Regions from separate parts of the Homo sapiens genome. Here region 1 is linked to region 2. Evidence: fine-mapped expression QTL. A gene starts in region 2. The other region holds a variant in brackets. All regions are shown on one strand. Distances are between the middles of the regions. Region 1 overlaps SHANK2 (SH3 and multiple ankyrin repeat domains 2). Region 2 holds the start of CTTN (cortactin).

Region 1 (16,343 bases), 70 kb before region 2:
GCCACTTGCTTCTTTACTTACCTCACCCCAATTAACTTGTACTGACTGATGAAATAAGAGCACCTCTCTGAGTGTCTCAATTACCTTGATTTTTTTTAATTCTCACATTTCTACATGAATGTGATTTAAAAGGCAGGGTAGACAGTGGTGACCTGGTGGGGAGTTGGGTGTGAGTGTGTATATGTGTCTGTGTTCTAAATCAGGGCAGCAGATTCCTGTGTGTTCCGACTGGGAACCCAGCGGTTGCTTAGCAACGTAACCATCTGTGCAACCGGGAAGATCCAGTGAATATCATCAATGTGATTAACCAAGAGAGTCAAGCTGCTGAGGAGGGCAGGGCGGGCAGCCCAGGGTGGCCTTCACCCTGCGTCTCACACTCACAGGCGGTTACTTTCTATAGCAATGTGGGGCAGGACACTGGCAGGCCCCAAGCACTTGACGCCCATGTGATTAACGGCTGGGCTGTCATCTCATGATGTAGACTTGAAGCAAAGCACTTGTCCTGTTGGGGTGCCCTCCCCCACCAGGAATGTTCGTTTATCCTCCCTAAGCCACAGGAAAGACAGTTCAGGCACCTGAGGTAGGAAATTGGCAATAAGCTGCTTCTCAGTGGGCTTCAGGCAGAGGCGAACTTCACTCCAATGCTACTATTTTCTTTCTTTTTTCCTGGTTATTTTTCTTCTTTACAAGTGGTTACATTATCCCAAGCCAAAGAAGGAGAAGACAAGCTTGTGAGTTTCCCACGCTCCCTATGAAAGTGATGCCATATTGATGTTTCAGCTCTGGGCAGGCTGTGGCAGGCCGAAGGGACCACCACGGATGGGCTTTCAGCCAGGGTCTGCCCCACTGCCTTCATTTCATCTGTCGAAAAGCAGCTTTTTTCTGTTTCTTCCTTTCTTGTTCATTAATTTTTGCAGTGTTGTCTCAAGTCATTCCATTTGTCATTTTCATTTGCTCCCATGACCGGTGTTAACAGAAGAGGGTCGTGCTGAACAGAAGTAAGTGCCACCTGCTGTGCTGCTGCGTGACCCCGTGTGTGCCACTCTCGCGCTCCCGCTGCCCACCGAGGTGTTTGCAGAGCCTCCTCTTCGCTTCCTAACCACACACACAGCTGCCTGCAGAGCCTTTCCTTACAAAAACCAAAATCAATCCCAACTACCTGGGAACAGCTGGGTATTTTCCCAGTGAGGGCAGCACTGGGGCAACCCTCTGGGCCAGAGATACCCGTGGTGAATACTGCCCAGGCGTGAGGTAGGTGCTCTCACTCTGGGGCTTTACTTGCCTCTGCTTCACAGGCCTGGTGAGCACCAAGGCCAGGCACCAGTCATGCTGCCACGGTGGAGCTGCCCAGAGTCAGGGCTGCAGGCACAGTCACCATGTAGTCAGCTTTAGCAAAAGCACATGGAGACCAGAACTTTACCCCAGCTACCCCTCCTCCTCTAGTCCTCTGTGGGCATATGTCTTCTTGTAAGATGTTTTCCCATTTTATAGGAAACATTCCCTGTGCCCCAAGGTCCTTGGCCCTAATTAACACCCCAAATCACCTCTGAATGCAGTGGCTTTCAACTTACCCATTATTTGATTTCAATCATCTTGGCTTAATTGTTTTATCAACGTGGACAAATAAGCCTTCCCCAAAACTGTGCTCTTGTGACTCTGGAATAAACACAGAAGAACAGGCCACAGCACCCCCAGTTTTAAGTTGGAACTGGAGCTGGTCTTTCGACCTTCTTTGAGTACCAGAGAAGGGGGGGTTGCAGGTTTTTTCGTGTATCCTATGTCCATAGGCCACCTCTCTCTTGAGAGTATAAACTGAGATACTAGAGGGTGCTGGCCCCTCTCCCCTGCTGTGAAGCCCCACTGGGCTCTGATTTGATTTCGGGTTTTTTGGGGGTTTTTTTATTGTTGTTGTTGTTGTTTTTGAGAAGAAGTCTAGCTCAGTCGCCCAGGCTGGAGTGCAGTGGCACGATCTCAGCTCACTGCAACCTCCGCCTCCTGGGTTCAAGCAATTCTCCTGCCTCAGCCTCCCAGTAGCTGGGATTACAGGCGCCCACCACCACACTCAGCTAATTTTTTTTTTTTTAATTTTTAGTAGAGATGGGGTTTCACCATATTGACCAGGCTGGTCTCGAACCCCTGACCTCAAATGATTCACCCACCTAGGCCTCCCAAAGTGCTGGGATTACAGGCGTGAGCCACCGTGTGCAGCCTCTGATTTCTTGATTGTGAGTAACTGGGCCCAGAAACAGTGGAGGAATCCTCAGAGTCTCACCTGCCTTGTGCCTGTTGGTGTGAGCAGTATAACCAATGACCAGCAAGCCACCATTGAGGGTGGGGGCAGGTTCTAGATGGGGATGCCTGGTTTGTAACATCTCCCACTCAGGGGCACCCAGCCCTCTGGAAAATAGCACGTGAACACCCTATGGGTGGATGGGGTCCCTGGCCCAGCAGTGCACCCACCAGCCCCTGCAAACACTTCTCACAGTAGGATTGAAGCCTCAGTCCACAGCACAGGCCCCTTTCAGATTTGCCCCTCCTTTCTCACTATGGACTAGTCCACACTTTAAGCAACAGTGACTAACATCAAGTAGGAAACTGACCCACAGCTTAGGGGAACCTAGGTAACTGATGGGTGGTTTCACCCAAATATACATCCATGGTAAAGAAAGAGAAAAGAAAAAAACGGAGAGAGACAGACTAGACCAGCAGCGGGGCCCGTCTCCAGGTCACTCCCTTTGCTTTTAGCTCCTGGAGGGTTCTGGGCCATTAGCTTTGTGCATACCCTGGAATGAAAACCAAGGCCCAACCAAATGGCCTCTAAGGTTCAGGGTCTCTCAGTGTCTGGGGAGTTTGTTAATTGCAGACACCTGGTCCCCATGCACAGCACTCCTGCTTCCACAGGTTTGAGACGAGCTCAGGAGTCCTCACGGCCCACCAGTGTCCCAGGTGGTTTCTATGAAGGGTCTGTGGGCTCCTCTTTGGGAAGTGCTGCTCTAACTGGTCAGCCATTGAGCTCCAAAGACAGCCCCAGTGCAAGTCGATGAACTGGCCCCCAGCAGACGGGCAGGGGCTTCAGTCTTGCCCTCCAGGGAGTCTCCCCACACGGCAGCATCTCTACTGTTTGCAGCTCTCCCCCTCTTGCCCATGACCCTTTCACTGAGACACTGCAGCCCACCACCATTCACGGTCACGATGTCACACCAGTGCACTCCTCATGCTCTCCAGAGCCCCTCCACCCAGGGTAACCCACCACATAGGAGGGAGAGGAGCCCACTTCATGTGGGAAGATGTGGAGACAGGAGAAAAGTGCACCCAAGCTGGCATCTGACAGAGCCAGGGCTCCAGCAGACATCTCTCAAGTCCAGGTCTTGAAGAGAGAGCCGTGGTAGGATGGATCTTTTCAGAAGCGGTGGGTGGGCCGTTCATATCCACGTGAATGGGCCCAAAAGGCAAGAGACCCACACCTCTCCTCCCCTCCCCAGTGGCTGTGGCTTTCCTAGGGACAATAGGATGAATGGGCTTTCAGTGTGGGGACAGCAAAACATGCACTAGGGCCCAGAGTGGCAGTTCTCTTGGTGTGGAGAGTGCCTGCCACAGGCCTTGGCCAGAGCCCGTGAGGGAGTGGTGTGTGAAAGGCCACCTCCACGTGGGTAAGCGTGAGGACTTGGACTTCTCTGGCACTGAGATGGGACCTCCTGCCTGTGGGAGTCATCTGGCCACCACCCTGGGGCCAGTAAAGGTTGGAGCTAGAAGGGTCGTCCTCCCTGACTTGAGCTCTGAGGGCTTTGCCTGCCCAGCCAGAGCGGCAAGGCACAGGGGACCCTCGGGGACGCCCATGGCCACCCTGGGGAAGACAGGGCTCCTCACGCGTTCTGCTTTTCAGTAAGGCCCGTGTGTCCTACCAGTGAGCCTCTCACATGAAAGGGGCTAAAAATAACACAGGGTACCCCAGCTCCTTCTGCAACAAAACTGTCCACTGGGTGGGCGCTGGACAGTGCTGCCTCAGGAAGGTGAGCGCAGCCCACACTGGCCACACAAGCCACGCCCTGCTGTCTGGGTTTCCGGGTGATCTCAACCCCTGAGTGCCCTGCGTAGCTACAGGGGTTCCAGTTACTGAAAGGGGCCACCTGGGAAGGATCCTGCCCTGCTCTTGTCCATTTACCCAAAAAGCCTAAGGCTGCCAGGCGGCTGAGGGGCCTGTCCTCCAGGTGTGCTCCTTCCCACCTGCTGAAGCTGAGGCGCTGGAGATGTTGCCTGGCACGTTCTACCCAGGTGACAGGACCCCACTCTGTCCCTGTCTCCGTGCCCTCTTCAAGGGACCCCTTCCAAATGCCTCAGTGGCCACCCTCCCGAGGGTCCCCCGGCCCTGCCCCCCAGCACAGGCAGGTCCCCCAGCCCCTCTGTCCCAGTTCAGGTGAGTGGGCTGACGTGGTGTGCTCCCCCCAGCACAGGCAGGTCCCCCAGCCCCTCTGTCCCAGTTCAGGTGAGTGGGCTGACGTGGTGTGCTCTGGTGTCTCCAACTTTGCTCTGGCCCCTTTCTCCCCCTCCCCCACCCTGGCATGGCAAATCATTCGTTCACTGCCAGTGGATCTGCCACTAGACACTCTGGCATGGTTTGGGCGTCTCCCTCGCCTTCCTGGGTGATCTGCAGCCAGCTGCCCTGACTCGGTGACCTGCCTTGTGATGGTTTTCTCTGTGTTGCTGTTTCAGAAGCCCGGAGATCATGAGCACCATCTCAGGTACACGGAGCACGACGGTCACCTTCACTGTTCGCCCCGGCACCTCCCAGCCCATCACCCTGCAGAGCCGGCCCCCCGACTATGAAAGCAGGACCTCAGGAACAAGACGTGCCCCAAGCCCTGTGGTCTCGCCAACAGAGATGAACAAAGAGACCCTGCCCGCCCCCCTGTCTGCTGCCACCGCCTCTCCTTCTCCCGCTCTCTCAGATGTCTTTAGCCTTCCAAGCCAGCCCCCTTCTGGGGATCTATTTGGCTTGAACCCAGCGGGACGCAGTAGGTCGCCATCCCCCTCGATACTGCAACAGCCAATCTCAAATAAGCCTTTTACAACTAAACCTGTCCACCTGTGGACTAAACCAGATGTGGCCGATTGGCTGGAAAGTCTAAACTTGGGTGAACATAAAGAGGCCTTCATGGACAATGAGATCGATGGCAGTCACTTACCAAACCTGCAGAAGGAGGACCTCATCGATCTTGGGGTAACTCGAGTCGGGCACAGAATGAACATAGAAAGGGCTTTGAAACAGCTGCTGGACAGATAAGGACGGCTGCTCTCCACCTCGCAGACTGCTCTTGTTATAAGTAGAGATGGGCTCGTGCTGAAACATCTGAATGCCAAGCGAAGTCTGTGAGCATCAACCCCACTCCATGGGTTTGTCTCCTGGTACCCAAAGAAATACTGAGTTGTGTCCACAACATGGCTGGGTCTTCAGACCCCTGGCTCACCATGTGGGTGTCTTGGGCAGTTTCTATCACACATGGGACAAGGGGAGGGAGTTTTTCTAACATGGAAAAAGATTCTCAGCCTGCCGCCCAGCATGCAGGTGGCCTCGCTTTGCCGGGTCCGAGAGGCTCCCCGTCAATTTTGCACGGGATCCTAGCTCTTGTAGGCAGACACCAGTGCACTCTAGATACCTCCTGAGACCTCCGTCCTCTGCTTTCCGGGCAGCTCTCACCACCCCAGGCCCCGGCATGAGGCCTTTCCTCAGTCCTGTGGCCTCTCAGAGGACACCTGATGCTCACCTGCCCCTCTTTCTCCTGCACTTGGCTTGCAGTGAGATGCTCCCAGATGCATTTGTCCAGTGCCCCATCATGGGCCTGAAAGGCAGAGAAACTTTTTCCTACACAGATTCTTTTCCCCATCTCCTCCTGTGGTTTGCATCCATGGCTCTTTGGCCATGAGGTTCCTGGCAGTGCTGGGAGTTTGGATGGGATCGTGCCCAGCTTTGCTTAGCTTTCTTTATTTCTGCAAATCTGTTAGCATAATTCCAAGGTGGCCAAGCAGATGTCACATGGAGTTAGTCAAAGCACAAAGTCACGATTCCACAATGGAGGGGAGACCTGGCCAAGGGAGCCAGCCAGCGTGCAACTGCCCAAGCTCCAGGTCTCCAGGACAAGAGCAGTTGTCTGCCATGAGCACCCATCCAGGATGGAGAATAAGGGCTTCTCTGCCTCTCAGAATTCTTTTTAATTGAAGATGTCTTGAGCTCTGCAAAGATCAGAGCAGGTGAGCATCCACTTTGACATGAAGGACAAGAAGACGCATGGCTCATGGCGGGCACATGCGGCTGCCAGTGAGACAGCGTCTCCTCTGGGAGCTGGGCGGGCACAGCATCCTCAGTTCTGTGCCCAGCCAAGGGTGAGCATCTCTGCTGAGACAGTCCTTTTGCTCTCGGAGGCCAGGGAAGATGGTACTTAGAGGCTTTTCCCCTATCGCTCTGGGTGTCTAGGAATCCCACCAGCTTGTCTTAACAGTACAACAGCTTCTTTGAGGACCCAGTGGGTATGGAGTATAGACAGAACCCAGGGTTGAGAACAGAAGGTGGGCGGCAGGATCAGAGTGAAAGCAGAGGCGTGAGGAGAGGAAAGCAGGGAGGTCTCCTGGGCTGCCAGGTCAGCCTCTCTGGCAAGGCTTTCTTGAGCCCCGCCCCTTTCTTTCCCCGGAGTCCCTCCACCCCATAACAATACCTCGAATTTCCAAAAGAGGTCACCAGATGCACATGGGCCGCAAAACACACAGTCAGGCTTCCAGCACATTCTCCCCCATTTGGAGGATACTCGAATGTCAGGTTTTTGGTTTTATTATTATTTCAGAACTAGCTCAGCCCATCTCTAATTATAAAACATGGTTTTGTTTTTTTTTTTTCCTTTTTTTCTTGATTAGGTCTGGAACAGCTCTAGAATGAACACATAAAATTTAGCAATTTAAAATCTTTCTTTACTGCAAGTTTAAATAGTTGTACAGATAGTTTATAAGCACAATATTTTAAGAAAAAAAAGTGGCTGGTCTACTAGGCAGCCTTTGTGCCACTTCAGTGCTAGAAAGTTAAAGAAAAAAAAACTTTTGTGATTTAATAATACTATTTCTGTGGAATAATTATAAAAGTATGACCTTTTTAAATCAACCTTATTTGGATGCATCTGAACCAGCAGAGCTGTGTTATATTTTCTATCTTTGCTAGAACTTCGTCATTGAAGGACAATTTCTTCAAAGTGGTTACAATTCATAATGCAGCAGTTTCTCCAAAAACAAAAACAAAACACACACCACACACACGCGCTTTTCCAGTCACACACCCCTGATGTTGGAACCAAGTTTTTGGACCTTCTGTTCCAAAACCTTTTGCAGGTCAATCTTTGTATTTGAAATGATCCAATCCAACTTGAAGTCAATTGAATATTAAGGCGCTTTACTTCCGTGTGCTTTCAGTTTTTCCATCATGAGATGAATGAGCATTACTCTAGATAAATTTCAAGACAGGATACTACAGGTGGCCTGCTGAGGCTGCCCCATATTTTAGAAAATGTAAAAATGGTGGTTTGGCCATTAATTTGTCTTCCATTTGATGATACCGCAAAATTCCGTGAGTCCATTCCTTTGGCATGGCACTTTCCCTGGGCCTACAGTTGGTATTACCTCTGTGCTCAGTGCCAGGCAAAACACTAGCTCAAAGGAGAGTCAAGGAAACCGCTGGCAGACGATAACCAGTCGAAACTCGTGACTTCGGTTTGTTGAACTTTGGCAGCCAGTTGGTGAGGGCCAGATGTTATTCCCTTTCTTAAAGATACTCCAAGCCACATGCCACTAACCACAAGCAAGCTGGCTGCAAGACTAAAGAGCTGA[T/C]AACATAGTTTATTTTTACACTGTCTTATTATAGAGAAGTAATAGACCTATCAGAACCTGCACTGACCAACAAATAAACACATGTTGCCAAGATGAATCGGTCTCTATCTCTATCTGCTTATTTTGGTACTGAAAGCAATAGTTCCTCATTCAAATCACCACCCACTGTTCTCCCCCTTTGGGACATGTTAGGACGAGGCCCTATTCCATGCCCCTCTTTAATGGTGGAACAAATGTTAAACTGCTCATCTAAAGATCATGTTGATATTATTCCAGGTTTTAAGATCAACTTTTGTTACATACTGTAATTTAAATAAACTGCATTTACATGCCTAGTTTCTGTAATATTGTGTATACAAAACCCAAATCTCTCAAAATGTAAATTATGTATACCTGCCAAGATACCTTTTCCAGGGTGTCTGCGCACATTTTAAGTTAATTCACATAATATAAAAATTACTCAATGTGACTGTTGATTTGCTGAACTTTACATATCACAAAGTGAATTATTTGTGATACTTTAGTTAATAAAATGGTAAATTTTTTTCTCAGTTATTGAACAAGCAAGCATTATCCAGTTGATCTGGCAATGACTTTTTGTGTGTGGGCCACAATATTGATTTTCCCATTAACAATTTTTTTTTGTTTTTTAAATACTAATATGTTTCACACTATAGTTTGTGTAACAACACGTGTTCGCATTATCTATGTTGCTGTTACTTTTGTGCTTTTATTCTTTTTAGACTTTATAAAAAAAAAAAAAAGCTCCTGTAATTTGCACTTTCTCCCAATCCTTAAATCTCTTGTATGGCAACCAAAATTACTGTAAAAAAATAAATATACTATTGCACTAAGGTTGTGGTTCTGATTGCAAACAAACAGTGAACACTGTCTGAATTAAACAAAAAGCTGCCCGACTTGCAATCTAATGTAGATTATCTCAGGCATTGTGGCCAGCTCTGCCTCTCTAAAACTGACCAGAAAAATCTCTCTCATCGAGTAAACAGGCTCCTGTCACTGAGCTAATCTGCCTTGGTTCCATTTCCTTATTCTCAATTTATCAATGGATACGTGCATGTTATTTCAGAATTATGCAAAACGTCAAAATCTGCTTCTGTGACCGCTGCTATAGGCGTGGAGCTGAGGCTCGGCTTTTCCTTTTGTTCTGGGTGGAAGCAGCGGTGCCGCGGAGGGCCAGCCAGATCCGGACCCTTCCCTTAGGGTCCAGTCTCCCCACACCCCAGCAGGGTGTCTTCTAGCCATAAGGCCAAGGGAGTGGCAGAACTGGGCCGCCTCTCTGGTTGACAAGCAAACCACATGCTAAGGCTTGGAGCAAGAGAGAATTTGTGTCTATTGGCAAAGAACTAAGCCAGGAAGACATGGGCCATCCCTCCGCTTTAGGGAAGCATATTTTAAACCTAAACGTTGAACTTCTTCTTTGGCCTCACCAGTGAAAACTTGTTGTCTTTAGTTCCTAAAGTTTCTTCTACTTTGGCACATTCCCCAGTTGAGCAGCAGCCTCTATGCTTCCACGTTCAGGAAAAATTCCAGTCCTCATATCTTTTGTAGTTCACCCTCAAGCTCTCCCGCTTCACCATCCAATAGTTTCTCCCAAACCTTGGCACCCCCCTAGACTTTGCTTCCAATGGTTTCTTCCAGACCACTTTTCCTAGATGAATATATTCGTTTACCTTACTAGGAAAATTATTGGAAGATTTTTTCTTTTACTTGAAATTGGAGGCATTTTAATAACTGGCGAACTGGAATGTGTTTCTGTATTTGTAGACAACCATGAACCCATGCAAGTAGGTGAACATTCCACAGTGGCTGGGTGACCACAGCAGCTGCATGCAGACAGGACTGCCCGTGCTTTGTGGGGAATCAGAGAATTTCCAAACTTGTTTCTCAGACTTCCGCAGATCTCATCACTTTGATTTCTAATCCATGCTGTATTGGTGATTTTGTTTATCGTTCCTGTAACTTGTTCTACATTCCACAGTCTTTACCGTTTTATGTTCAAAATTACAACAATCCCTGTCCATTGATTCCACTCTGGAACTCTTTGTTCATGCCAATTTTGAAATTTTAATACGAGCCTTCAAATAAACACAGAAAAGAAAAAAAAAAAGGAAAAAAAATAAAGTGTGTGCCTTGGGTGTTTTGAACCTGATCTGCATAAAACCATATTGTATTCAAATGCTGTATCTTTCATGAAAGGATAAATATATCTTCAATGTATTAATGTAGCTGATAAAATAGTTATAGTGCCTTGTTTTCTGAACTGAGAAGCCCATATCAATGCACAACGTAAAGAAAGGACGGTTCGAGCTATGAAATGTTGAGGACACCTACACGTGATTCTGGAGCCTTTCTCATCATAAGACTGTGGAAAATACACAGTCGTTTAAGTTAAAAATAAAAAGTAAATTGAAATAAGATTGTGTTATCAATTAATTTTCCATTAAAAGTGCTCTCTACTGTATCATTTTCAGTATTTTCATTTAATTAAAATACAAAATGTGTTTGAGGATTTTCATGGAAAGGAGAAAAGTTTAACCACAGGAGCCCTGGGCTCTCTGACCTACTCCCCTTGTGCTGTGCCGCCCCCCGGTGGTACTCATTGGTAATGCTTAACGAAGCCATCAATATCAATCATTTCGACGTTTTGTTATAAATATACACAAATTCATTTTTAGTGATTGAGGCCACTCATTGCAGGAAAACTGTTTCCATTTTTCACAAGTGAAAGTGGCAACATGTGTGTTTTTCTTTCGACAAAAAAACGATGTGAGAAGTACATCAGTGTAATTCTTGTCTCAATGCTGTCATGCTCCATTTGCTTTAAGTGCGAAGCTTCCCTGAGCAGCCTCTGCCTTTCTAGAGGATGAGCCTGCGGTGTAGTGAGCATATTAGGGCTGCCATCTGCCTGTGGGACCAGAATAGCCACAGCAATAGTGAGCGTTTGTGGGATTCCGGACAGATGGGAGCGGCAGCAGCCCCATCTTCTCGGGGGCCCCCCCGCAAACAGGCCGCAGAAGTTCTGGAGGCAGAGCACTGCCACAGGCTGTCCTGCCACACACATCTCTCCAGGGAGTGAGGAGCTACTCAGATCCAGAACTCCCCACTGTGCCTGCTCAGCTCACAGACTATTATCGGTGTGGCTATTTACCAGCCAGAAGAGTCCACTGGAATTCAGACTGTGTAGTTTCAGGCAACAATGCAGCCAATAATCCAAGAACCTGCAGGGTGCTCAGGGAGATGTGGCCAAAGCTTCTTGGTCACCCTGCTCCACATGTGCTGCTACCTCCGCTCCAAGTATGAAGCATGTGTCTGAGAGCCAGAGGAGGGGCCCTGGCACTGCTCACAGCCACTGGGTAAGACCTGGCAGCCAGGCCCTAGGCCCCCATGAGGTAGGGACCACGGAAATGGCCCAGTTCACAGGACAGAGTGTGGAGACCCCTCACCAGCCACCTGCATCTGGGGGCCGGCCCCTCTGACGCGGTGCTCCTGGAAGGCAAGCCATCCTGCCATTGCCCAACTGTAGTCATCTCTGCCCAAGATGACTGCAAAAACAGAATTAAGCGTGTTCTCCAAACCCCAGAACCCGGGGAGTGGGAAAAACACATAGCCCCTGCAGCCCTGCAGAGGTGGCCACAAGCACAAGCATTCTGTGTGTATACCCAAGAGGCGGTACAGGTTGGAAACAGCACTCAGTCTACCTAGTGCTATCTGGGACGGGCACCGTTCAGATCACTGCACCCACCACGTGGCTAAAAGCCCTGTGAGGTAACAACTAAAGCCCTATTTCCCAGATGAGGAAACTAAGTCTTGCCAAGGTCCACAGCAAGTGGAGAAGCAGAGGTTGCTGTGCAGCTTCCCAAGTCTATCTACAGGTGACAGAACCCAGCCCGGGGCCTTGGGAACCATCGCTGGCTCCGAATCTGCTCCACCCACAGGGTGCTTCCTCTCCCTGCCCCATCTGACGTCATATGTGCAGGGCTAAGAATTCAGGAGGCGGGGCAAGGGGGGAGTCCCTACCAGCTGAATCACCTCAGGGTTGTGGAAAACGAAGACCGAATTCAGTGGCAATCTGGTTACCTTAATTCACTCCACTGGGATCAGGAGAACCAAGACCTAGAAACCCCTGTTTCTCAGAGAAAGGACCCAACATTTGTAAAGTCCCCTTGGCTTAGAGGGCATGTGACACATGGATCTGCTTTAATTCCCACAAGAATCCTATGAGGTTAAGCATCACTGAGGTGACTATCTCCTTTTCTCACGAGGACACCGAGGCTTGGAGAACCAGTTGCCATTGCCCATGGCCTCCAGGCACCTACACAAGTTATCCCCAGACTGTGGGCCCTCACCATGGGGGCAGAGTTGCCCGAGGCCAGTCCTTCCCAGGTCCTCCATGAAGCCTTCCTCTTGTGGCTGTGAACTGCCCAGAGCCCTCCCAACACACACCTCTGTGGCCTCAGCCAGCCAGAGCCCATTTCTGTTGCTTACAACCACCATATGACAGAGCTCCTAGCCCCCCACGATGATGATGTGTTTTCTCCCACAGCCCACGGCCTCCCTCTGCCAGTCAGAACTGGGGCAGCCCTTTCCTCTCCTTCCACTGTCACCCCCATTGGCAGAAGAGAAAGGCGGAGCTAATGAAGAATGAGATGGGGGTCTCATGGCTCCCGAGTGAGCCTGGAAATGGCTTGCCAGCCCCATGCAGCTGTGAAGCTCCACTTAACGCCAAGGGCATGGCCAGCTGCCCTCCTGGCCTTGGAGCCACCTGGGAGAGCTAAGAAACGCTCCATCTTCACAAGTGGGAGTTTATACAAGGTGCCCGATAGAGACATCGAGGCTCCAGGGAAAACCACACAGCCTGAGACCTTTAACACCCAGCATGCTTGCTGGGAAAGACCAGCCTCCCTCGCCAATAGGCATGGGACCAGCTTTCTCCGGTAGGCCCCAGGAGGGCTAAGTGGAGAGTGTGGTGGGAAGGAAGGAGACCACAAAAAGAGAGGTCTAGAAATAGCAGGAAACACAAGCCACCTGTGCATTCATAGCAGCGACACAGAGACGGCCACACTGACCTCAGCTCTGCCACTCTGCCCACCAGGTCCAGAGCCATCTGGCCCCACCCACCCTCCTCTTCGGGCTTCCTCCCTGCTCACCTGGCTCCAGCCACAGTGCCACCTCAGCGCCGCCTCCCTGTGGGGTCCCCGTACCTACATGGCTTCCCAGATCACCTGATTTAGAATGGGACTTACTGCCATCACCCCCTCCCACATCCCCAGGGCACTTACTGCCACCTTCACTGGCTTATTGCTTTACTTACTTGCTCACTGATTAGTGCCCACCGCCCCACCCCGCCCACACATGCCTCTGGAAGACAATCCCCGTGGGGGAGGCACGGCCTGTTTCATGCACTGCTGTAACCCTGGCCCAGGCAATGTCTGCAGGGACAGCCCCTCCTAGAGGCCCCCTCACAGCCTCAGCCCACTGCAGCTGTGCCCATGCTGTGGCCACTCCCACTCCTGCAGCTTCCATCTGGTCCTCAGACACCTGGTAAGGAAGAGGGGATTCCCCAAAGGCTCGGAGCACTGCCTGCCCCTCCACGGGCCCTCCTAGTCCCCTGCCTGGAAAGTGCCTGGGAGTCTTCCACCTGCCCTGCTCCCCGAGGCCACCAGACCCACGGACTTCGCCCGTCCTGTCCCAGGGTGTGGAAAGGAACACTTCCCTAGTCCTCTCAGCGGCCGCAGCAGAAGCAGACTGTGTTCTGGGCGGATGCTTGGGCTGAAACCCCCAAACCCCACGAGTCTGTTTCTGGCACACGGAGCTGGGCTCCACAAGGGAAAGACGCCTGTATAGACTGGCCCCGTTTCAGTGAGTGGAAAGTCCCACAGCTCCTTGGGGTACTAAGGGGATGCTGGGAGGGTGCGCGACTCGTGCACCGAGGCCCACAGTGGAGGGGCTGGGAGTGCAGCCATTCTCCCAAAATCAGGTGTTTGGGGTCGCGTATCGCAACCCCCAGCTTCCGGAAGGAGACACAGTGTCTGCCCTCGGCTCACCTGAGCGTAGCTTCAAAGACCGCAAAGGCGTCCCTGAATGAGGACAAAGATTCCAGCCTTGGCCCGACTCTAGCCGGGCGCCTCGGAGACCTCACCTGGCCTAGGCTTAACCTCGGCCTATGGAAACGACAGCCTCTCAAACCCCATGTCTCCGCCCACCTCTCGCCTGTCATTAAGACTTCAGCCAACACTAATGGCTCAAGGCCGCCGCCCCGGGAGGCCCCAAGGCCCCTCAAAGGCCCAACTCGAGGAAGGGCAGGGCTGCCGGAGAACTGCTGCTCCAGCCGCGCCGGCCGGGCCCAGGCGCGTTCCTTGGAGCCTTCACCGCGGGGAGCCGGCACCTCAGTGATTCTGGCGTCGTGCACCCGGCGTCTCGCTCCAGGACCCGAGAGCCGCCGTAGGGAGGGTTTGCAGAACCCAAACCGCCACACCTGCCAGCGCATCCACACCCACAGCCCCGAGGCACGCTCCACTTGCGCCCCTACTCACCCTCATTCTCCTCTCAGTAGGCGAAGGGCGCCTCCGCGCAGGCAGCCGAGCTCAGGTGGCGCCGGGCCTGCTCCCGCGTGCGAAGCCGTCCTCACGCCGCAGCGGCGGGGCCTTCGCCCTCCTCGTGGCCCGCAGCCCCCGGCTCCCAGGCCAGGGATCTGGGTGAGGGCGAGGGCCACAGAACGGGGAGGAGATTGGTCACTGGGGGCCCCCACTCTGGAAGGGGCCAAAGCCAGGCCCACCTTTCCCCCCAACAACCCCCGCGCCACCTCACCCAGGTCCCAAGCAGGATGCAGCCACCCACGGCCGCCATCCCACCTTCTGAGCCTGGCCTGCACTCTACTCCCGCCTTTGAACAAGGCGGGCAGAGGACTCTGGGCCCACTGGTCACATGCCTCACATTGACCAATCACTGGCAAAGAATGGGGATCCACGATTGGCTGAGCTAGAGTAGGCAGGGCAGCTATCAGCCAATCCCTGGGACCAGGAGGCGGGTCCACAGACGAGGCAGGTGCCCTGGGAGGGAGCTGGGATATTGATGTCCCCTTAGGTGCCTGTATCCTCCTAAGGGAGCAGTGAGAAGTCCCTCCTTCAGTGTGGGGGTGCACATGTTTGAGGTTTGTTTAAGAGTTATGGCTTTGAATTTCAAAGCTATGTAACCACATTAGGCACACCCTGGAAAATGGAGAATTGCCACAGCCCTGCCACCAAGCTGAGTTCACCTCCAGTCCTAACACCCACCTTCTCCCTGCATTGAATCATGACGCACCTACACCTCCACTCCTGCTTCCTTGGCTTCCGTTTAGCCCCCAAACCTTGCTTGCATGGCCGTCAGTCCCCAGCCCTTCATGGAAATGGTGGTGTGAGATCCCATTGAGTGGTATGGTGTGATGTCCTTGACAATGTCCTTTTAGTTGGCATTCGGGATAACGACCACTTTTCGCTATTACGGTATCATCTTACATCCAGTCCTCTGAAGGTGTGGTGTTCACATCACTATGGTGCTGCTGCATACACTTCAACCCACGAGACAGACCCTAGGCAGGGTCTGTGCAGAGCGGTGGGACAGATATAAAGAGGACATGTATTGAAACAGAGTCAGGGCTCCAGCCTCAAAGAACTCTTGTCCTCATCCAAGTTCTGGAGCTTGTTAGCTATGTGGCCAGGGCACCTTAACACAGATGTGAACATTTTCACTCTGACCCCTGGACGTAGATCAAACAATGGAAGTAAACAGTTGTGTCTGTTGATATCATGTTTGGCTGCAAATAACAGAAACTCCAATTAAAAGCAATTTAAACAAATAATGGTTTATTCTTTTCATATCACACAAAAATGTAAGCTCCAGAAGGGCCTGGATTTGTCGGTCTTGTTCACTGCCCCAGCACCTAGAATAGGATGTTCTTAGTATGTGCTGGAGAAGAGGTGGGTGGTTCCCGGCTTTGGTCTGACAGCTCAACAGTGTCAAGTCTCAGATTCCCTCAAACTTACCACCTCACAGCACCCAAAGGCTGCTGCCACTCCACACACGACATTCTCTTCCAAGGTAGGAAGAAGGGACAAGACTATGACAGCCAAGTCTCTCTCTTTTAACAGAAAAGTCAATGCTTTCCCAGAAATGTCTACCAACACATCAGCCACAATGGTGTCTGCAGCAAATTAGAAGCAAGGCAGACTGGCAGAGTGAGTGGTTAGCTTGGCACTGTGCTGCCAGGAACAAAATGGGGTGGGTGGGATGGAGGACAAAATGTTAGCAAGGCAGAAGGGGAATGGACAATGGGTGGGCACGTGGCAGATGCTAGCAAGAGTGTGTTCAGGTGGAGTGTCCTCACTGAGCATGTGTAAGTGTATGGTTCATTGGCATTAGATAAATTCAATGTTGTACAGCCATCACCACTACCTAGTTCCATCACCCTAAACAGAAAT
Region 2 (16,343 bases):
AAATCTTTCTCAGCTGAAGGGACCGTGGTCAAGCGGGACAGTCTTCCCGGGATACTGAGGCGGTCACCGGGTCAGTGGTGCTGCCTTCACAGCCAGGGAAAGGAGGATCCACTCTGAACCCAGCGTGGCCTAAAATAAAAGTCTGAGCATATTTTAAAAGTTCCTTTTATCTACACTTTCTGACGAAAAAAAAAACTGCCCCAAGAGCTGGCATTTTAGATAGTGCCAAGTGAGAAACAATGACAGGGTTCACTCAGTGCCCAACTCTGGGCTTTCGATAAGAACACAAAGCTCACAGTACCTCACTATTAACACATAATCATTTCCAGATAATAAAAAAAGGGACAGGGCATTTAAGGTCTCAGTTATTCAGACATCTCATACTTTAGAAACCTCTCGCTTGTAAGGTAGAGCTTAGGGACAAATGTTCCCTGATAAAAGCCACAATACTGAGAAGCGGACACTCTAAAATTATAAATACGGAAATTGTTTGCAATGGGAATTTAAAAATTACTGAGCACAGAAGTATCTAAATATACACATATAAACACACACATTACACAAATACACATATATGTGTGTGTCTTATATTCATTTACTGCATGGGTATCAGGTCAAGAAGATAAATGCAGTTTCCACACGGGCTGTCCCTCCACAGATGACCATGGGCCCTGTTGCACCTGGGGCTCCATCCGCAGAGGGGCCCTCGGGAGGGTGGTGGCGACGCCTCTTACTTGATATGCTCCTGGTGCCCGGAGCCCTGCACCGTCTTGGCACCCCATCTTTGCTCCTTCTCACTCACATCATTCTGAAAAGAAAAGCGACCAGTAAATCTCACAGCCTGGATTGTGACACAGACAAACCACCACCCCATCAAAGAAAAACCCAGGAGAGCCACTTCCACTTCATGAAAGAGGAAAGCAAAGGCTGGCGGCTCCTACCACAAAATCAGGGTCGGTCTCCCAGTCATCGGCCCCCGCGTCATCCTGGGCGATGGACACAGCGTGGCCTGCTGAAGCTTTCCACATCTGAAAGAGCAGCCGGGGAGGGTTACGGAGGCCTCAGGGCGCCATCCACAGAGGCCAGCAGATGAGCCCTTTGGCCAAAACTACCGAGATTCTAGGCAACCCAGGAGGACGAGGCTGCAGGACCAGCCAATCCTTCATGATCCATAAGCCTGACTGACAACCACAGGAGTAAAAGAAATTTCACCTCGGGGTTCTAACACTGCCGTCACCTGACGTCAGAAATATACTGGAAATACTATTTGGCTTCACCTTGAGTGAGAAAATTTTCTGGAAAATAAAAAAGTCGTGTGTGCACTTATTTATTCATTAAGAACATATTCCTGTTCTGTTCAATCATATGATGATAGTTTCCAACCAAAAATAAAAGCACCATTTTGGATTATGTATTATAAATATACTAAATGTTACTAATGGTAAATCTCATGGTATGTGTATTTTATCACACATTTTTAAAAAGTGCACCCATTTTGATTTCAAGTGCTTACTGAAACCATAACAATAATTTTCCTAATTCAGACTTACAATTTAATAAATGTTTCAAGTAGTTTATTGGAGAATTGCTTTACTCTCTACTTGGAAGAAAACAGGAATATAAAATGCCACCTTTTCCTCTATCAGGCAGCTCTGCAAGTGGGCAGCCACCTTCTCCCTCAGCCCTTGAAGACTGGAAGGTTTTCTCTGTTATACAGAACAATGGCACATCTGTAAACCCTAACAAGACAATTCTTGTAACTGCAGTGGTAAAATATAAAATTTTAAGGTTTTTTTTTTTTTTTCAAACTATGTATAAAAAGAAGTGATTCCTTTTCCACAGAAATAGTAATACAATTACACATAGGCCACAGAGCAACTGAGAGATTATTTTAAATCAAACAACCATAAGCTGTGCCCAGGGGTCTGAACTGAGGACACCCAATTCACTTTTTCTCAGGTGCCATGTTGGGACTCTAGCGCCCTGAATCAGGACTGGACAAAACCCCTTCGCAGCTTGAGAATGTCCCATCTGGCTCCTCTCCCTCCAGCCTGGCTGGGTCTCAAGTCCAAATCCAATGTGACAGTGAGGGACCAATCAGGGCAGCGTGCTCTCAAATTTCTAGGTGCGACTTTGTCTCTTGGGGAAGAACCGTCTGCCAAGGGGTGTAGCAGGACTAACAGTGCCCCTGGAACCTTCTGTCAATGCCCAAAGCATGGCAAGAATTTCCAGAGTGATCTGCTTTTGCCAGGATTTTAGAAAACAGATGAACTAGAATCTCAGAACGGAAAGGCACAACCAGTCCATCTTGTCCCAACGCGCCCATTTATAAATGAAGCAACGGCTGCAGGAAAGAGAAACGGGATGCTTGGTCTCCGGCCGCCCCATGGCACCATGCTGCCCTGGCGAGGGGGCTGCCCGCCTGCAGGACTTCAGCTGCCCATGGTTCCCACCACTGAGAAGGTGGCTGCAAGAAAGGATGGGAGTCCCTGCAGGGCTGGCGAGGCCACCTTCACCCCCAAGGCAAAGGAGAAAGGCGGCAGGTGTCTTTGCCTGGTACTTTTTCAGGCTCATCGGGGAGAGATTAGCAGAGCACAGTCTCTGCTCATCTTCCCGGACACAGCTTCACCAGCGAGCGGGGTGGGCACTTGCGAGCTTCACAATCCTGTGCCTGGGGGCCCCACCCATGTTCATGGGGTGGGGAAGGGGCCAGATTTCCCCTCAGGGAGGACAGGAATGGTTCTCTTCCTCAATTCCAGAGTTTTCTGCAATTGTCTCCTCTAAGTCATATGCAACAGAAACCTGACTTTATTTTTTAAACAATGAAATTTCCTTCCAGAATATTATCATCTCTCTCCCAGTAAATCCACAGAAACAGCAACCTCCCCCGTTTCCTGTTAAAGGGATTTTTGCCCTTACCATCCACAGGAAAAGAATGTTAGGATGTTCACAATGCACAAGTACCTTTCTTTCCGCTTGGAGATAAAAGGCTGTTCACGAAATTCTGTTTAAAACACAGTAATCCAATGAGGAATTTCCAGGCATTGGGGACTGATTCCGTCTGTAAAAAGATTAAGGGTAAAAAGCTGAGAAGGATGTATGTTGAGCAGCTCCCTGGGCAAACCCTTCTGTGTGGAGATCTTTTTAGAAAACTTCAGAAATCTTCCCAAACGTAACAAGGTTTTGTAATGAAATCTGAGAGGAGGATGGGAAGACTTGCATTTTACTAATAAAAAAGTTCAACAGAGAGAAACTAAAGAAATAAGTTTTAAAAGATTTCTAACTACATGATGACTTTTTGTCTTTTTTGTTTTGTTTTTTTTGAGATGGAGTTTCACTCTTGTTGCACAGGCTGGAGTGCAATGGCACAATCGCGGCTTACCGCAAACTCCACCTCCCGGGTTCAAGTGATTCTCCTGCCTCAGCCTCCCAAGTAGCTGGGATTACAGGCAGGCGCCACCACGCCCAGCTAATTTTCTATTTTTAGTACAGACGGGTTTTCTCCATGTTGGTCAGGCTGGTCTCAAACTCCCGACCTCAGGTGATCCGCCTGCCTTGGCCTCCCAAAGTGCTGGGATTACAGGTGTGAGGCATGGCGCCCGGCCTACATGATGTTTCTTATGAATGCAAACAGAAATTATTGCCTTAATTGCTAGTATGCATTTACTGTTTGCCATAATTCTTAGAGATTTTCACTTTTTATTCATTCTAATTAATGACATTATAAAATAAAATTGTTACTGTGAGCTTTTTAAAACAATAATATAAGAAAAACACTCCTTGAGAGGATCATGATATGGCCGGGAGGAAAAACCAGTATGGTGACTGTCTATCAAGACATGAGACTGGCAGCTGGAGAGCCGAGGAGGAGGCGGGCTGCATTCCTAATGAACGTACACGGTTACCGCGCAGGGAGCAAGACTCCAGCTCCCCAGAGGGTGGCCAAGCACACGACCCCTTCCCTAGGACCACACATCAGCCTCAACTGGACACCATACTGCTAGACAACACACATGGACGAATGAAATCCCCTTGTCCCTAGGAACAAGCCGGTCACAGGCAGAGTGGTTTCTCACGCATTAGGAACTAGGGGATGGTGCCTGGCTGGCCCTCCTGGTAATTAATTAATTTCCTATCTGGTTTCTGACCCAACTGTTTGCTCCATCTCTCTCCCCAGTTCCCTTCGGCAATCCTAACTTCTACAGATTGCTTGCTACATTCTGGTTACTGCAGTTATTAGTGTAATCGGCAAGCATCTATACAACTCTGCCTAAAAATTTAGCCAGGCATGGTCGTGTATACCTGTAGTCCCAGCTACTCAGGAGGCTGAGGTGGGGGAACTGCTTGAGCCCAGGAGCTCAAGGTTGCAGTGAGCCATGATCACACCACTGCACCCCAGCCTGGGAGACAGAGAGAGACCCTGTCTCATACATAAATCAATCATAAAGTAAATAATAAAAATCTACTCATGAGCAGCTAAGGATAGGCTCAGATCCACAATTTTATACTCTCAATATTGGAAATTTAAAAAACAATCACAAAAATAACCAATAGGAAATAAGTTTGATTGTTTTGTGGATCCAAAGATAAAAAGCCTCTAGAGCCCTACCTCAAAACCATACAGAAAAATTAACTCAAAAATGAACTAAAATCCTAAAAGGGTGTAAATTTTTGTGACTTTGAATTTGGCAATAGTTTCTTAGATATGACACCAAAACACTAGAGGAAAAAAATAAATTGTACAAAATTAAAAATTTTGTGCTTCATCAAGAAGGTGACAAGACGATCCTGAGAGAAAAGTATTTTGAACTGTAGATCCAGAATATATAAAGAACTCTTGGCCAGGTGAGGTGGCTCACGCCTGTAATCCCAGCACTTTCGGAGGCCGAGGCGGGCGGATTACTAGGTCAAGAGATCGAGACCATCCTGGCCAACATGGTGAAACCCCGTCTCTACGAAAAATACAAAAATTAACAGGGCGTGGTGACGCATGCCTGTAGTCCCAGCTACTTGGGAGGCTGAAGCAGGAGAACTGCTTGAACCCGGGAGACAGAGGCTGTAGTGAGCCGAGATTGCGCCACTATACTGCAGCCTGGCGACAGAGTGAGACTCCATCTCAAAAAAAAAAAAAAAAAAAAAGGAACTCTTATAATTCAATAAAAAGGACGAATAACCCCATTTAAAAATGATTGAAGGATCTGAAGAGACATTTCTTCAGAGGAGATATACAAATGGCCAACAAGCTCAGGAAAAGTTTGTTCAATGTCATTAACCACCAAGGAAATGCAAATCAAAACTGCAATGAGAACCCACCTCATACCCACTAGGATGACTAAAATAAAACAGCCAATGACAAATCTCAGCAACAGTGTTGAAAAACTGGAAGCCTCATAGACTGCTGACAGGGATGTTAAATGGAAAAGGTCTGGCAGTTCCTCAGAAGGTTAAACTCAGGTACTGTATGACTCAGCAACTCCACTCCTAGGTCTATGCCCAAGAGAAATAAAGTATAAGCACACAAAAACTTGTGCGTGAGTGTTCAGAACAGCACTATTCATAGCAGCCAAAAAACAGAAACACTCCAAATGTCCATCAACTGATAGATACATAACATGTGGTCTACCTAACACAAAGGCATTTTATTCTGCCACAAAGAGGATCCAGCAGTGACACCTGCTACAGCGTGGAGGGACCTCAAATCCATTGCGCAAAGGAAAACCACGCACAAAAGACCACATATTATACGATTCAATTTCTAGGAAATGTCTGGAGTTCACAAATCTACAGAGACAAAAGATACATTGCTGGTTGCCCAGGGCTGGGCGGATGGTGGTGGTGAGGATAGGGAGGTCATGGCTAAAAGGTACAAGGGCTTCTTTTTGAGGTGATAAAATTATTCTGAAATTGACTGTGGTGACAGTTGTACAACTGCATGAAGATACTAAAAACCAGTGGAGAGTACACACTACACAGGCGTATTGTATGGTATGTGAATTATATCTCGATAAAGCTGTTACAATACGGTTCAAAAGAAGATAATGACTCTGTCCATCCTCAACATTAAACCTTCCTTGCAAACGTCAGTGTACAAATCAAGATTGCACAAACGTGAAGTAATCTTGCTGTCTAGACAGAGTGAAAAATTCCTCTACACAATAACTTTTTTTTTCTTTTTCAGACAGTCTTGCTCTGTTGCCTAGGTTGGAGTGCAACAGCGCGATCTCGGCTCACTGCAACCTCTGTCTCCCAGGTTCAAGTGATTTTCCTGCCTCAGCTTCCCGAGTAGCTGGGATTACAGGCATGCGCCATCACACCCAGCTAATTTTTTGTATTTTTAGTAGAGATGGGGTTTCATTATGTTGGTCCAGGCTGATCTCCAACTCCTGGCCTCAAGTGATTTGCCAGCCTCAGCCTCTCAAAGTGCTGGGATTACAGGCACGAACCACCGCGCCTAAAAGCCCCCCACCAGCCTTTTTTTTCTTTTTTTTTTCTGAGACAGGGTCTTGCACTGTGGCCCAGGCTAGAGTGCAGAGGCACAATCTCAGCTCACTGCAACCTCTGTGTCCCAGGTTCAGGTGATCCTCCCACCTCAGCCTCCCGAGTAGCTAGGACTACAGGAATGCACCACCACACCAAGCTGATTTTTCTCTCTCTTTTTTTTTTTGTTTTTTTTTGTTTGAGACGAAGTCTCACTCTGTTGCCCAGGCTGGAGTGCAATGGTGTGATCTCAGCTCACCGCAACCTCTGCCTCCTGGGTTCAAGCGATTCTCCTGCCTCACCCTCCTGAGTAGCTGGGACTACAGGCACCTGTCACTACACCCAGCTAATTTTTCTTTTTCTTTTTTCTTTTGAGATGGAGTCTCAGTCTTTTGCCCAGGCTGGAGTGCAATAGTGTGATCTCGGCTCACTGCAACCTCCACTTCGCAGGTTCAAGCGATTCTGGTGCCTCAGCCTCCTGAGTGGCTGGGACTACAGGCATATACCACCACGCCCGGCTAATTTTTTGTATTTTTTTTTTTAGTAGAGACGGTGTTTCACTGTGTTAGCCAGGATGGTGTCAATCTCCTGACCTCGTGATCTGCCCACCTCAGCCTCCCAAAGTGCTGGGATTACAGGTGTGAGCCACCATACCCGGCCAATTTTTCTATTTTTAACAGAGATGGGGTTTCCCCATGTTGCCTAGGCTGATCTCGAAACTCCTGGGCTCAAGCAATCCACCTGCCCTTAGCCTCCCAAAGTGCTGAGATTACAGGTGTGAGCCACCGAGCCTGGCAGAAGAATGTTTTAAATGACAGGACAGAACCATCCGTCCACCATCAGCTTTCCATTAGCCTCAGCATCTATGGCAGAGCAGGAGGAGAAAGGAAACAGACACTTGCGTAGCCAAAATCACCATCACAGGCACACTCCCTACACCACACTTACTCAAGGGAAACCCCGCCCCCAACATTTACTCCGTTTACTCAAAGCAGTGCGTGAGCAGATGGGGTGGGCCTGGGCCACAGTGAAAGCCAAGCCTGCTCCTGGAGCACAGTCCCCTGCTCTTGGCTGGCCCAGGCCATGGGAATACTGCAACACAAGGCAGCAACCAGCGCTCACAGCAATTCACACTCTCAGGACACCTTTTCTGAGCACCTACTGCGTGGCACAGACTGAAGATCTGAATTGCCGATTATGTGTGCTGTCATTTTAAAAGTGTTTTAAAAACAAGTCCATCAAAATGCTACAATTAAAAGTCAGCTTTAGCTGGGCCTGCAGTCCCAGCTACTTGGGAGGCTGAGGTGGGAGGATCGCTTAAGGCCAGCAGTTCAAGGTTGCAGTGTGCTAGATGGCACCTGTGAAGAGCCTCTGCACTCCAGCCTGGGTGACAGGGTCTCGCTCTGTCACCCAGGCTGGAGTACAGTGGTGCGATCGAGCTCAATGCAGCCTCCAACTCCTGGGCTTGAGATCCTCTGCCTCAGCGCCCCAAGTAGCTAGGACAACAGGTGCAAGCCAACATGCCCAGCGAATTTCTTTTTTTGTAGACACAAGGTCTCCCTGTGTTGCCCAGGCTAGTCTGGAACTCCTGGCCTCAAACGATCCTCTCACCTTGACCTCCCAAAGTGCAGGGATTACAGGTGTGAGCCACCGCACCCCTGCCCCAGGTCAAAAGAAATTTCTTTTCAGTAAGATATAGCAGAAGGTTAGCTTCTAGTTCTAGGGGACCTAATATCAAAACAACCCTGCCTCCCCAACTTTTTATTGAGTCCCACTTAAAAGACTCTTCCTTGTTCCTTGAGTATCTGGCGAATACTTCTCTAACCAGAGGAGAAACAGGACTGACTCAGTGCTCTGGAGCCAGTGACTCACCCACACGGTCAAACACGTGAATGGAGACAGGGGCAGGCGGCCAGCCCCTCCTGCGCCACGGCCTTGGGCCCGGCCGGGCTTGAGGGCTGGATCATGCCTGAAGGACCTAGTGGGTGAAGTCCCCCCGACAGAGCCTGCGCAGCCAAGTCAACACTGAGCCCAAAGGGAGCGCATGGGATTCCAGGGAGCGCTCACCGGATGCCTCCGGAGCTTCCTTCAGCAGAAAATGAATTCCTCCCCAAGGGGCCCCAAACGTCCACAGATTCCAGCGGGAGGAAGCCCTGTCCCTTCTCACCCAAGGCCTTCCAGCTTCAGGGATCAGGCATCCCTTAGACTATCCAGGTGATGGAAACGTAACAGAAAGCCCCAAAGCACCGTTCTGGTGATTTTAAACACACCCCGAAGGAGGGACGGTTCCAAATTTAGAGCCTCACGACTAGCTGCAGCCGCGCCTCGCTGCCTCCACTGACCTGATTGCAAAACCTCCGCTCAGGTGCAGGCCGGGCGGATCCCCAGCTGCTCCGCCACGTCCCACAGCGAGCCCCTCAAAGTCGCGCACCCCAACCGCCTTGACCCCGCGGACCCCATCCCTTTTCCCTGCGCCTGGATCCCTTCCCCTGGAGCCCCAATCCCCTCCCCTCGGACCCTATACCTTTCCTCCGAGCCCCGACCCCTTCCCCTCGAACCCCAATTCCCTTCCCTCGGACCCCATCCCAGTAGCTCTGCGCCTGGACCCCTTCCCGTCAGACCCCAATCTCCTCCCCTCGGACCTCATCCCTTTCCCTCTGCACCCAGACACCTCCCTCTCAGACCCCTCGCCCTTTCCTTGAGACCCCCCACACCCACCTTCCTTGGCCCCTCGAACCCCGGCCCCCTCCGCTCAGACCCCCGAACCCCACAGGCCCAGCCCCTCTCCCTCGGGCCCTAATACCCTCCCCCTCGGAGCCCATCCCCCTCTCCTATTCCCTCGGACCCAAGACCCCTCCCAGCCTGGCCCCTCTCCTGCCCTGGAGCCCCCCGGCGCCCAGGGACCCTCCCCTCAGAGCTGATACCCCAATTTGGCCCCTTTCTAACCTTCCTCCGCGGACCCCAGCCCCAAGCCCTCCGTGCCCCCTTGCCCCCTGCCCGGCCTCCTTGGGCCCAGACCCGTCCTCGTGGCCCTCGCGGACCCCCGGCCCTCGCCCTGCCCCGCCCCAGGCCGGGAAAGCCTCGCCACTCTGCCCCGGCCCCCGAAACCGCAAGCGGAAGAGCGGTGAGACCGCTGCGGCCGCCGCTTCCTTCCCCTTTCGCGGCCAGGCGACGCCACAGGAGGGAAGAAGCAGAGCCCGGCCTGCACCCCGGGCGGACGCCGCGCTCGCTCACCGCCGCCTGGGGTCGGTCCGGCCCGGGTCGGCCCTGGATTCCGCCGCGCCAGCCGCTCCCAGGCACCAGGCTCTACTTCCGGTTCCGAGGGCGGGGGCGGGGCCGCATCCGGGTCCCCGCGCGACCCCGCCCCCTGCCCCGCCTCCTCCCGCGTCTTGGCCCGCAAGAGTCCCGGGGGTCCGCCCGCAGCTGGCTAAGCGCTAGCCCGGCCTGTGGCGAGTCTGCAGAGCTCGCCCGGAAGTAGCGTTGCGCGCGCAGAGGATGGGCGCTGAGCAGCACACAGCCCGCGGCGGGGTCTCAGGATCCGCGGCGCTGCCCGGGGCCGGGGGAAGGAAGCCAGCCGAGGAGACGCACGTGCCCTGAGTCCGGGAGCGGGGAGCCTCTTCATCTCTCCATCCTCCCTCCGCGCGCGCCCTCAGCCGTCCTCGTCCGCTCACCATGCACCTCCCCTCCAAGAAAGGGCCACATGCGTGCCAGGGACGCGAGCCCCGGCCACAGGGACATAGCAGCCTAGAAGGTGAGTCAAGCGTTAAACCACATGGGTACTCACCTGGGAAATGAGATAAATGCCAAGAAGTGAGAGTTTCATAACATCGTATTGGGGAGACGGTAGGACCTGAACCCCTGGGAGACCAGAGGTTTCTTTGGGCGATTCACATGTTAGCCAAGATGTGAAGGCCCTATAAGAGTAAACAAGGTAAGGAGGGAAGAATTTTCCAGGCAGGCCAACAGCAGGTTCCAACAGCAGGGCCAACAGAGGTCCCAAGGCAGGAACGGTCTTGCAGCAGGGGAACTGGAGGAGGCTCAGCTCAGCATGGTAGAGGGCTAGTGGTGCAGCGGAGCTGTGGTGTGAGAGGGGCCAGGTCATGCAGAGGCCGATAGAGCACAGCGAAGACCTCGGTCTTTATTCTGGGAGACACGGGAAGTCCTCGGAGGAAGTTAAGCTGATAAGAGACATCATGAAGTTTGGGCCAGGCGCAGTGGCCCACGCCTGTAATCATAACACTTTGGGAGGCTGACATGGGAGGATCGCCTAAGGCCAGGAGTTCGAGACCAGCCTGGTCAGCATAGTGAGACCCTCGCCCCCGCCCGCCATCGCTAAATAAATAAATAAGACATAATGAAGTTTGAATTGTAATGAGATCACTCTGGCTGCTGTGTGGAAGATGGATGGGAGAAGGGCCAGGTAGAGCCTAATGTAGCCAATTCGGGCAGACCGCTGGTGGCAGGTAAGATGGGGAGAAGTGGATAGATGCAAGAGGCATTTAGAAAGCTAAACTGTCAGATGTGAGGATGAATTGGAAGTGCGGGTGGCGGAAGGAAATGTCAGGTGTTGACCATTTTTTTAAAGGTAAAATCATGACCTTCATACACATATAAAATGAACACGTCAAATATTTTATTTAACTCGATAATGAATACATCATAAGTTGTTACAAATTGTTTAAAGAATTTGGCCAGATGCAGTGCCTCGCGCCTGTAATCCCAACACTTTGGGAGGCCAAGGCAGGAGGATTGCTGGAGGTCAGGAATTTGAGACCAGCCTGGGCAGCATGGCAAGACCCTGTCTCTACCAAAAAAAAAAAATTTTTTTTAAGAAAAAAATTAGCCAGGCATGGTGACGTTTACCTGTGGTCCCAGCTATTCTGGAGGCTGAGGCAAAAGGACCGCTCCGGCACGGGCAACAGAAACCCTGTGTCAAAAAAAAAAAAAACGGAAGACGAATGCTGAAATGAATTTGCAAAAACTGCTCTATCTCTAGTGCAAAGGTCAATTGCATTTAACTGGACACAGCTAATTTGCATTTTCTGTGCACAAGGATTGTTGGCCAGGCTTGTAATACCAGCACTTTGAGCGGCAAGGCCAGAGGATTGCTTGAGCCCAGGAGTTCAAGACCAGCCTGGGCAATATAGACCCCATCTCTGAAAAAAAAAATTTTTTTTTTTACATTGCTGACTGTTTTTTTTTGTTTGTTTGTTTAATCTTTAGAGACAGGGGCTGGAGTGCAGTGGTGCAATCAAGGCTCACTGCAGCCTCGATCTCCTGGGCTCAAGTGATCCTCCCACCTCAGCCTCCCAAGTAGCTGTAGCTGGAACTACAGGCACGTGCCACCACACTCAGCTAATTTTTTTTTTTTTGAGATGGAGTTCCCCTCTTGTTGCCCAGGCTGGAGTGCAATGGCGCCATCTCAGCTCACTGCAACCTCTGCCTCTCGGGTTCAAGCAATTCTCCTGCCTCAGCCTCCCGAGTAGCTGGGATTACAGGCGTGCGTCACTTTGCCTGGCTAATTTTGTATTTTCAGTAGAGACAGGGTTTCTCCATGTTGGTCAGGCTGGTCTCGAACTCCCGACCTCAGGTGATCCTCCCGCCTCGGCCTCCCAAAGTGCTGGGATTACAGGCGTGAGCCACCATGCCCGGCCTCTAATTTTTTAATATTTTTGTAGATACTGGGTCCTGCTGTGTTGCTAATGCTGGTCTCGAACTCCTGTGCTCAAGTGACCCTCCTGCACTGGGATTACATGTGTGAGCCACCACATTGCCAGGCCACATTGCTGCCTGTTTTTTAAAGGTTAATTTCTGCCTCTACAGAGGTATGAAATCATCTAGTCAAAAAAGCAGGCATAGCCGGTGGTGTCCATCTCAGAGGGAGCCCTGTGACTGTATTGATCCAGCACAAACCCCTCCTCTCAAGTCCCTCACTGTGTCACACCTTTTGCCATAAGAGGTCATAGTCATAGGTGCTGAGGATTAGGCTGTGGACATATCTTTGGGCGCCCACGGAAATGTTCTTATTTCTATTAAAATTGGAAAAATGAACTTTTAGGTTGAAGAAAATGTATTTTATTCAAGAAAACATGTAAAGAAAATATAGCAGCCAGGCGCGGTGGCTCATGCCTGTAATCCCAGCACTTTGGGAGGCCAAGGCAGGTGGATCACCTGAGGTCAGGAGTTCAAGACCAGCCTGGCCAACATGGTGAAACCCCGTCTCTAAAATTAAAGTACAAAAATTAGCTGGGCTAATTTTACAGAGAAGGAAAGACAAAGCTCACTGCAGACTTTTCAGCAGGAGGGCAGCGTTCGTGGCTTAGAAAGACCAGTCTGCTGCCGGTGAAGAGCAGGGTGCTTCAGAGTGGCTCCCAGAGAGAAAGGGGCAGCACACTCTTCCACATGCCCATTGTGCTCCCCAGGAGAATGTGTGGCAGAGACTGAGGCTGGCCACAGGAATTACACATACAGTGTAAAATTTGCAAAGCAAGAAGTATAGCTGTGCTCAAAAATAGGTCGAAGCCGGGCGCCGTGGCTCATGCCTATAATCCCGGCACTTTGGGAGGCCAAGGCAGACGGATTTCTTGAGGTTAGGAATTTGAGACCAGCCTGGCCAGCATGGTGAAGCCCCATCTCTACTAAAATTCAAAAAATAAAAACAAAAACAAAAACAAAACTGGTGGCTGGGCGTGGTTGCTCACGCCTGTAATCCCAGCACTTTGGGAGGCCGATGCAGGTGGATCACTTGAGGTCAGGAGTCCGAGACTATCCTGACCAACCTGGTGAAACCCCGTCTCTAATAAAAATACAAAAATAAGCCAGGCATGGTGGCAGGCGCCTGTAATCCCAGCTACTTGGGAGGCTGAGGCAGGATAATCGCTCAAACCCGGGAGGTGAAGGTTGCAGTGAGCTGAGATCGCGCCATTGCACTCCAGCCTGGGAGACACAGCGGGACTCTATCAAAAAAACAAAACAAAACAAAACAAAAGTGATATCTCTGTGAGCCAGAAATGAAGAGAAATGCAAAGTGCTGAGTGGGCCTGCAACTGCAAAGCTGCTGGGCCTGGGTCACCCACGCTTGTAAAAGAAGCACGCAGCCAGGGGCGCACCAGTGGTCCCAGCTACTTGGGGAGGCCGAGGTGGGAGGAATCACTTGAGCCCAGGAGTGCAAGACCAGCTGGAGCAACATGGTGTGAACCTGTCTCAAAAAAATAAAAATAAAGAAAAATTTTAAAAACCCATGCAGCCAAAGAGGGATGTCCAGACAGCCTTATGTCCAGGACCTGAGCAAACCAGTCCCTGACTTAGAGTGCAGATGGGACCTGGGGCATTTGCACCACCACGCAGGGCTGTAGGACTCAATACAACACGTGTGACGGAGATGTAGCTGTCCACCCAGCGCCCCCACCCTCCTCGGTACTAAGTGGACATGTGGGTGTCCAGCTCTACTACATTTCCCAGCTTCCCTTGGAGTTGGGAGCTGCCATGTGGCCAGGTTCTCGCCCATGGAACATGAGGGGAGGTGACATGCATGGCTTCTGAGCCTGGACCATCATTCCTCCCCGGGGCTGCCTCCTACCGTGGACCAGCTTCCTAGGCTGCTGCAACACATTATGACAGACTCAGTGCCTCAAAACAATGCAAATATATGCTCTTCAGCTCTGGAAGCCAGAGTCTGAAATCAGTTTCATGGGCTAAAGTCAAGGTGTCAGTGGGGCTTGTTCCTTTTGGAGACTCTAGGGGAGGAACCATCTGTGGCCTTTCTAGCTTCTTGCATCCCTCAGACCCATGCATTCATCTTCACACCTGTTTTCTCTCTGTACGGATATGTCTCTTTGCCTCCCTATTACAAGAACATTTGGGATCCCATTTCAGACCCACCCAGAATATCCTCCCATCTCAAGATCCTTAATGTCATGACATCTGCTAACTCCTTTTTGCCATGTAAAGCAACATCACATGTTCTGACTATTAGGATGCAGACATATTTGGAGGCCATTATTCAGCCTACTACAGGTGACAGGTACAACCTTGGAAGCCCTGTTTTGAGGATGGCAGAGCCCACCAGCCTGCATCCCTCCAAGACTGCGTGGAACAGATCTTCCTTACTATCCCTTTCTCCTCCTCTGCCTGACCTGGACATACACCCTGCCCTGTTACGTGAAAGCAAAAGAAAATCCTGTTGTGTTTAAGATATTGCGTTTGGAGTCCATTTGTTCCAGATGTTTAGCCCACCCTAATACAGAGAGGTTGAGGCAACTGCAGAACAGGGAGACAGACAGCGTCACACACAGTGAGGAAGAGAGAAAATGAAACATTTCCTAATTAAAATGAACCTAGAATGTAAGTTCCAAAGGGATTGTAAAAATGAATACTAAATAAGAAAGCCAAAGGCCAGGCACAGTGACTCATGCCTATAATCCAGCACCTTGGGAGGCCGAGGCAGGTGGATTGCTTGAGCTCAGGAGTTCAAGACCAGCCTGGGCAACATAGTGAAGACCCTGTGTCTACAAAACTTTAAAAAAATTAGCTGGGTGTGGTGGCCTGTGCCTACAGTCCCAGCTACTTGGAAGACTGAGGCAAGAGGATCAGCTGAGCCCAGGAGGTCAAGGCTGCCAATGAACCATGATTTCGCCACTGCACTCCAGCATGAATGATAGAGGGAGACCCTGTCTCAAAATATAAAATAAATAAGAAAGCCAATACTGTGAACAATGGGAACATGAATTATTAAAGTTGAATTTTATATTGTAGAACATGAGTATGATTTTAAAATTATGTTTAGAACCAGGCCATGTGGCTCATGCCTGTAGTCCCTGCTACTCAGAAGGCTGAGGTGGGAGGATCCCTTAGGCCCAGGTGTTAGGAGTTCACGGGTACAGTGAGCTATAATCATGCCAGTGCACTCCAGCTTGGGTGACAGAGTGACTCTGATTTAAAAAAAATGGGAATGGGACTGGGCGCTGTGGCTCACGCCTGTAATCCCAGCACTTTGGGAGGACGAGGTGGGAGGATAACCTGAGGTTAGGAGTTCAAGACCAGCCTGGGCAACATGGTGAAACCCCGTATCTACTAAAAATACAAAAATTAGCTGGGTGTGGTGGCGGGCACCTGTAATCCCAGCTACTTGGGAGGCTGAGGCAGGAGAATTACTTGAACCCGGGAGGTGGAGGTTGCAGTGAGCCGAGATCACCATTGCACTCCAGCCTGGGTGACAATAGTGAAACTCCATCTACAAAAAAAAAAAGGAAAAAAGTCACCGAGATTGCCAACCCACTGAATCAAAAGAAGCAATAAATCTTGGTTGTTTTTTACTGTTACATTTTGGGGTGGGTCTTTAAACAGCAACGGATAAGAAAATATAGCAGATGATCGTGGGGTGGGAGCAGGGGACAGCATAGAACATATTAGACAGAAAACCTAAGGGTATATTTCATATACATATTGACAAAAAAATGCCAAACTCTGGAAAGTATTAAAAGAGATTTATTCTGAGCTAAATGCAAGGGCCATGACCCATGAGGCAGCCTCAGGAGGTCCTGAGAACATGGGCCCAAGGTGGTTGGGTTACAGCTTTGGTTTATATATTTTAAGGAGACATAAGACATCAATCAGTGCATGTGAGGTATACATTGGTTCCATCTGGAAAGGCGCGACAACTCAAAGCGGGGGCTTACAGGGCATAGGTGGACTCAGATTTTCTTTTCTTTTTTTTTTTTTTTTGAGACAGAATCTCACTCTGTTGCCCACGCTGGAGTGCAGTGGCATGATCTCGACTCACTGCAACCTCCACCTCCCAGGTTCAAGCAATTCTCTGCCTCAGCCTCCTGAGCAGATGGGATTACAGGCCTGTGCCACCATGCCCG

The links. PIP is the estimated chance that this variant, and not a neighbour inherited with it, causes the effect.
Region 1: its variant is fine-mapped to the expression of CTTN in whole blood (TOPMed, PIP 0.99).

What each region holds. Positions count from the first base shown.
Region 1 is chr11:70,461,807-70,478,149 of GRCh38, reverse strand. SHANK2 (SH3 and multiple ankyrin repeat domains 2) reads left to right here. Exons shown (of 26, transcript NM_012309.5): 26 at 4,711-10,296. The coding sequence ends at 5,281. Among named protein-coding and RNA genes, the nearest start is that of CTTN, 71 kb to the right of the region's middle. RefSeq lists an enhancer at 7,701-7,910. The variant T/C (reference allele first, on the strand shown) is at 7,864.
Region 2 is chr11:70,391,983-70,408,325 of GRCh38, reverse strand. It overlaps CTTN (cortactin), which reads right to left and starts at 9,797. Exons shown (of 18, transcript NM_005231.4): 1 at 9,712-9,797; 2 at 2,965-3,061; 3 at 942-1,028; 4 at 735-808. The coding sequence starts at 1,028. It overlaps CTTN-DT (CTTN divergent transcript), which reads left to right and starts at 9,864. Exons shown (of 3, transcript NR_186321.1): 1 at 9,864-10,228. RefSeq lists silencers at 3,968-4,147, 8,871-8,940, 9,522-10,031, 10,132-10,181, 11,279-11,467 and enhancers at 7,289-7,583, 10,432-10,501, 16,283-16,343.